2 linked regions of the Homo sapiens genome follow. The protein of the gene in region 1 purifies or fractionates together with the protein of each later gene. This does not show direct contact. Each region holds a gene or a part of one and is shown in the gene's direction. Other genes may lie near its edges. The genes, in order: BAZ2B and SMARCA5.

Region 1 (3,829 bases):
GATTGATGTTTTTAAATGTTTCAAGCTTGGTGAAAGTCTTCTAGTAGGTCAGGTCTGACAATCTGATTGGCTGTAGTAAGAAAGCATTAGGTTGTCAGAAGGACTTTGAGTATGCTGCAGAGATTTTGATTTTTTTTCCTATGAGATCATTGTCATATTGCCTGAGCTGTTATAGGAATGTACCAATGATTGACATTGCCTGCTGTGATAATGGACCTAGTGCATGAAATGCCAATAGTTCGGTCCTATTTGTTCAGAAGCTTACTGCTATTTGTATCCTTAACACAGCTAACATGTAGAACAAGCAAAACTACTGGGATTTCTCTGTAGAAATAGTGCTGGGATTTGGCTTTAACATGAATTGGTTGCATATTCATAATTTAAGAACAGCTGGTTACAGCAAGCACATAGTCATTTGCAAGCTATTATAAACCATTCCACTCACATGGAGCCTGTGCTTGGTGATTTTTTTTTTTTTTTATTGATCTACCTGCATTTAAAATCTGGTCACTGCTGCTACAGAAGCTCTTTATTTTAGCTGTGTTTGCAACACAGAACAGGTTCAATTTTAAATATTTAATTTAAACTTAATGCTGAATAAAATGAAGAAGCTTTGAAGGAAACAAGTGTAAAAGGTCATGTCCTACCTGTCACGGCCAGAATCAACCAAACAAACCTAGATTATACAACTATTGTAATTTTTGGAATATGTGTTTTATGATTTTGTCCATAGATCAATAACAGAATTATCCTGGATTTGGAAATATTGCTAATAATATTTTACTAGTTATACATAGTTTTGGGAAACAACATTAACAGTAGATTGTGATTAATTAGTCTAAAACAATGTCATCTAATATGTAGAAAAGTAGTATAATACTTTTAGCTTATGAGTGGTGGTGTAAAGCAAGATAGAAGGGAAAATTGGCATGACTTTATAACTGGATTAGAATAATGCTAATCCTAAAACTATAGAGTTACTCTAGTTTTTTAGAAGAAATCTAATAAGGAGTCTCTTTTGCTTTTTGAGTCACTTCTGGAGTATTAAGCACAGGTATGCTCTTACAGTATTTAGGTGGTATTGGTAAGTTAGGCCAGCTATAATAGTTTCCTGCATGTTGTCAGTAATAACTGTAAGGAAAGAGGAGAACACCTTTGTGTCTCAAGCTTTTAGTGAGAAGGGTGGGAGGAGAAAATGTTAAATGCTATTTCAGCTCTCCTTTTAGGAATCACAGGGAGCTGTGCTTTGATTTGTGTATATTAAAATAAGTGAATACCTGAGTGATTTACAATGATGCGTTTCCACACATGGTGTTAGGCTCACATGTGCATGTATGTGTTTGTCCCCACACTAGATGATGAAGTAGCTCTCAGCACTTCAAGGTTGAGTACCAGTCCTAAGAGTGCATTTTACTCTTTCTTGGCTTCAGAAATGGCTGGATAGGTTTGTAATATAACAGAATATATGGCCAAATTTAATCCAGCTGATAGTAGGCTGTACTTTTTTTTAAACAACAAATCCAAAGGTTATTAAAGGATGATGCATTGTGTTTTAGTTTTGAGTTGCATAGGATCATAACTATAATTAGTTAACTTTCCATTATTTGAGATTATATCAGGCATTTTGTAAATTATTTTATGTCTTCTTCACTCCCTTTTGACTATTGTCCTTTCATTTATTTCTCTGCTCTTTAGCATCTCATCACAGAATAAAGGAAGGAAAATTCAAACAAATCTGGTTTTCCCTGCCTTCCCCACTTCTTGATGAAGAGGGGTTCTTAGTTTTTGACTAAAATGCAGGTTTGGGATTTTATTTGTCTGCCTTTTCTGGTTCTCATTACATAATTATATTTAGAAAAGAAGAAGGGTGAGTTAATGGACTGGATTTTTATTTTTACTTTTTATTTTTTTGGAGACAGGGTCTCACTCTGTTGTCCAGGCTGGAGTGCAGTGGCACGATCCCAGTTTACTGCAGCTTCAACCTCCTGAGCTCAAGGGATCCCCACCGCCTCAGTCCGCCAAGTAGCTGGGACTACAGGCTTACGCTGCCATGCCTGGCTAATTTTTGTATTTTTGTAGAGACGGGGTTTTAGCATGTTTCCCAGGTTACTCTTGAACTCCTGGACTCAAACAATCTGCGCACCTTGGCCTCTCAAAGTGCTGGGATTACAGGCATGAGCCACCACGCCTGGCCTGACTGAATTTTTCTATACTGTATTAGTAACCCAGCAAAACAGAAAATTTAGACGTTGTTTGAAAAAGTAAAGTGACTCAGTGACATCCACCACAGAATTGCACATATTTGATACATTTGTATTATTCTAGTATTAATAATAGGAAAAGGAGGAGGCATCTACCTTCATTCTTTAAGCTTTTATTGAATGCTATCTCCAAGCATGCTCTGGGAGAGCTATGGATAACAATTTATGGAAGTTCATAGTAGGAGAGAGATGGCTTCTCATTGGAATAATTAGAAAAGGCCCTTCGGTTTAGGTAGCATTGAACTAGATCAAGAACAATTAAATTTTGAATATTCACAGATCAGGAAGAAAAGATCCAAGAAAAGAAGGACTGCATAAGCCTATTATAGAACAAATATAGAGCTAGAGCTCTATATTAGAGCCAATCCATTTGACATCTGGGATGGTTCTGCCTTTTCAAGGTCACCCCAACCCATACCTCTTCCACTAGAAGGAAAAGAAAATGTCATGGGATCCTTCCTTTCAAAATTGACTGCTTGGCTTTTTCTGGAGAAGATGGGTTAATCAGTTTCAATCCTCCATTTCAGTGATAGGCTTATTTGTGAAGGCCGGGTTAAAACTGACAAAACTACCCTTTCTGGTTAGAGGTATTCAAATCTTCTGTTTTGAGATTAACCAGAACCCCTCCCTTTTCCTTGGTTCTTTTCCTATGCTTTTGTGAACAGTTTTTCTGGAAATCTAATGCATGATCCCCCCTGCTAAGAACATTGAGTAGAGAGCAGAGGGTGATATATGTGTATCCCTTTTCTCCATGATGATGGCTCTGGCTCAAAAAACACTTTTACTTCTTTTAGTTCCTTCGGATGAATGCAGAAGACAAGCAGACTGCTGGACTGCCAGTAACGGGCATATCCATAAGGACAAAAAGGAGGGCCAGGCGTGGTGGCTCATGCCTGTAATCCCAGCACTTTGGGAGGCCGAGACAGGCAGATCACTTGAGGCCAGGAGTTTGAGACCAGCCTGGTCAACATGGTGAAACCCTGTCTCTACTAAAAATATAAAAATTATTTTTTTTGAGGCGGAGGTTGCAGTGAGCTGAGATAGTACCACTGCACTCCAGCTTGGGTGACAGAGTGAGACTCCGTCTCAAAAAAAAAAAAAAATAGAAATCCCACTAAAAAAGAGTATGAAAAAGGAAAGATTTAAAAAATTTTCAAAACACAAATGTATGAAAGATCTTTTACATAATGTCTTGGCCAAGGACAATAAATTTTAGTAGTTAGTCTTTTCCTAACTTCATTATTACTACATCATAATAATAATGAAATTTATTATTATTGCATATTAAATGTTTTATTTGCAGTATTGTGATGAACATTTACTTGCAAGAGATTTGTCATAAGAAAACCTTAAAACTTTTATGTAACCATTTTTTATCTTGTACAAGGATAAGTTTTGAGGTAAATTAAAGATGGAAAACAGTGGAAATAAAAAGTTATCTAGTGTCTAAGTTTAGTTCAAAGCCATGCTTACTATCTTTTCTGGTTTCTATGATGACATGGTTGTTGAAACATGCTTCTGATCTTTGGGTAATGTATTACTGTTAACATAAACCATTGTGATGACAT
Region 2 (3,829 bases), on another chromosome or scaffold:
GCTTTGTCACTTACATATGTAGACCAGAGATTTATGATGAACATAGGGTCACACAAGTGCCAAGGGTCTTAACAATGAAGTTAGACTTGACTTAAGGTCATTTTACCTTCTATTCCAGTACCGTACCAGATCTCCTCCCCACAACTTTTTGGTCACAGATAGTTTTATTATAGCATATATTGCCTAGCATAGATTTGTGCATCATTAATGAAGATTACTTCTGCCAATTTTTTTTAATGGATGAATAGAACTTTGCAGTGTAGAAGTTGTTTTTTGTTGCTTGTGACATATGAATGTCAGGATAAATATATTTGCAAGAATAACATTTATTACTAGTTTAGGAATCAGACTGTAGTTAGAGTATTCAATTTAGGCTGCGAGATAAAGTTTTTGTAATATTCCAGAAGGTGGAAATCAGGGTGACTAATTCTGATTTCTTTGTAGACATTTGTGTGGTAGCACAGTAGATACTGTAGTTTTATGACAAAAGGGGAACTTTTCCCCACATTTTATACTATTTAGTTTGGTTTCATGGTTATTACAGAAAAAGAGAAACAGATTGGCTTGTATTAAATGTAGTTTTCTTTTAGGATGATGAAGATAATCTTGTGTTCTAATCTTGGCAACAACCATACAGTTTATATATATGGGTTAAATACGTTGTTATCCCCATAGTATCTAATATCATTTTATCAGTTTTTCTGTTAGCTTAGATGACAGCTGTTTAAGTTTCTAGGAAGTTTGGGGTGAGAATGTATTATTTAAGATGTGTTTTGGTCAGAAATTGGTCTATAATGGTATGTTTACTATTTTCGAAGACCAATTCTATTTAATTATTTCTTTCTACCAGGAAATATTTGATGATGCGTCACCTGGAAAGCAAAAGGAAATCCAAGAACCAGATCCTACCTATGAAGAAAAAATGGTATGTTCTAGGCTTGTGAATAGAGTCTATAAGGAAAACTTTTTATCAGGTGATTAAATGTACTAAACATCTATCTTAGTCCATTTTGTGTTACAACAATACCACAGACTGGGTAATTTATAAAGAAACGAAATTTATTTCTTAGAGTTCTGGAGGCTGGCAAGTCCAAGGTCAAGGCCAGCATTTGTTGAGGGCCTTCTTGCAGTGTCATTATATGGAGGAAGGCCAAGAGAAGAGAGCAAGACAGGACTGAACTTTCTTTTATAACAAGCTCACTGGTGATAACCTCCTCCTGAGATACTGACAGTAATCTTTTCCTAATCACCTCTTATTAGGCCCTACCTCCCAACACTGTTGCGTTGGGGATTAAATTACAACATGGGAGATTTGGAGGGGGACACAGTCAAACCATAGCAATGTCTGTTTAATTTTTGTAATTATGGCACAGATATCCATTTGAAATATGTGTAATATGGAATACTATAACTTCCATATCTTATGTGTCTATGTAAGCCAAATGGAAGTATTATATGAATTAACATAATATGATGTCATTATCTAGTTATGTTAACAACACCTTTAAAAATTTAACCTTGGAAGCGAGGTGAAGACCAGAATAGTTACTCAGTGTATGTTTATTCTGCACTTGACTAGCATTGTACTCTGCTAGTTACCAAAAAAAGAAATATGCTCCTTGTTCACAGCATTTTTATATTATAGATGGGGTCTTTACAAAAAGAACATGACATTATATTGGAGTCATTCAAGTCCCAGTTCACGTTCCGTATCTTCTAAGAAACTTCTCAAAACTATGACTTGACTTAAACAGTACCTACACAGAGCTTTAAATTTAAATTCAGTTTTAGTAATAGTAGTAGTGGCTAACAGTGAATGTTTACTCCGTATCTGACCCTGTTAGGAATGCTTTATATGGATTAAACTCATTTAATTGTATTGAAATCTCAAAAAGTTAAAATAACAATGTATTAAATAAGAATACCACTACACAGTGTGCTCCTGTAGGGTAAAAACAGTGTCTTAATCTTTCTTTCTGTCTTCAGTACCCAGAACAGTATCTGGCACATAGCAGATCTTACATATTTTTTAAAACATACTTTTTTCTTGTCCTTTGACTTTCTCTTCCAAATCAGTAAATATTTTTGAATGTCTTAAATAGCTTCAAAATCTTAAAATTATGGTATGTATTTTATGTGCATGTATAATATGCACAATACATATAACACTATGTAAATTATAAATGATATATCTTTAGGTTTGATTTGTTATATATTTTACATATGTATATATGTAACTGTCACCTTTTTTGCTATCAAACTTAGAGAAAAAATAGATTTGCCGCTCTGTTTTTTTAAAGTGAATACTACTTTGAATACAGTCTACATATTTTAATACTGCTTTAACCCTTTATAGTTTAGATTCTGACACACTCTGCTGGTGAATCTAATTGCCAATTCTGAGGCTTAGTTTTAGTTTCTTGATTTGTGCTTGACATTGTTGACCATTCCTCAAAAATCTTGACTTGCCTTGAAAGACATTTTTTCCCGTGATAATATCCTCTTTGCTTTTTTATTCCTTTGTCCTTCCTTATTAAAATTTGAACATTTCTTCCTAGACAGTTTGATTCTTACTGGTTTTTACCTGGTATCTTTAAACTGAATATTTTCAAATACTTAACCTCTAGCCCAGAAGCCTGTAATCCGTATTTTCATTTACTTTAAAATCCTATTCATACCTCTTACTTGAGAATATCCAAAACTGAATTCATAATTTTTACTTAGCATACCTTAGTGTTACCTCAATGAATGAAAGTTCCTCTTCAGGTATACTCAAGATGTTCATGACAGTACTGCATACTTGTAAACAATAAGTTTACTTACGAGTTTATTCTCTTTTCCATATCACCCTAGTTTAGTATTTTTCTATTATTGCATGGATTATTTTGTGCTTCTGTATTTGCCTCCTTTCTTATGATCTGGCCCCTTCCAAGTTTCTTAACATTTTTGCAAAGTGTTATTTATAACACAAATTTGACTGTGAAATGGAGGTTTTTCAGTGGCTCTCTACAATGCTTTTCATTTTCTTAGTGGCCTTTATTGGAACTCTTTTCGTTTCTTCCAGGTTTTTCAGTCTCCCAGCATTATTTCCTTTTTTGACATCATGATCTTCACCTGCACAGTTTTCTTCTAAGCAAGAAGCTCCCTTGTCATCTGCTAGTTCTAACCATAGATAAGTTCACTATCCACTCCTCGTTCTTGAACCCAGAATGCTGAGTACTACTTCAGAAAACTAAATACTAGTGCTGATTGGTGCCAGTATAAGTTTATGGTTTTTATTTTCTTGGACCTTGAGTATTTATTGCCTATCAGTCTCATTTAGCCATTCTAAAATGTCCCCACTCTGATCAGTCTTTCTTCTCCATTTCTACCATGCCCTCATTTCCAATCTTCCTCCACAAAGAATTGCAGGCCTGTCTTTATTTTCTTTCTCTTTTCAAACATATGTATAGCCTCTATTATCCTACCTCATTTCTTCCTGTTTCAGAGAAAGAAGCTAGTCCAAAGCTATTCACTTTAATTTCCGTTTGATTTTATAATTGATTTCTTTCAGGTTCCTAATCATACTCTCTTGTTTCTGCTTTTTAGGTTCTGTTGGTTTTTCTCCCTCAAGACATTTCAGTTTTAACCTTTTCATTCTTTCAAGCAGTTTATCTTGATTCCAAACATAATTACAATAATTATTTTTTCAGTCCAAACATCTTGTAGATGCGTGCTCTTGGCTTTTGTTTCATTATCTATAAATTAAGAAATGTAATTATGTAAAATATGCATTCACATATGTATCTTGTTCAGCACTTTAAAAACAGTCTGTAATCTTGGAAAACAT

The links.
Region 2: the proteins of BAZ2B (region 1) and SMARCA5 purify together in Homo sapiens (co-immunoprecipitation; one study listed by IntAct). This does not show direct contact.

What each region holds. Positions count from the first base shown.
Region 1 is NC_000002.12:159,606,458-159,610,286, reverse strand, and holds part of BAZ2B (bromodomain adjacent to zinc finger domain protein 2B), read left to right. Parts: intron 1-3,829. UniProt on the Homo sapiens protein: Regulatory subunit of the ATP-dependent BRF-1 and BRF-5 ISWI chromatin remodeling complexes, which form ordered nucleosome arrays on chromatin and facilitate access to DNA during DNA-templated processes such as DNA replication, transcription, and repair.
Region 2 is NC_000004.12:143,516,505-143,520,333, forward strand, and holds part of SMARCA5 (SWI/SNF-related matrix-associated actin-dependent regulator of chromatin subfamily A member 5), read left to right. Parts: intron 1-850; coding exon 851-925; intron 926-3,829. UniProt on the Homo sapiens protein: ATPase that possesses intrinsic ATP-dependent nucleosome-remodeling activity.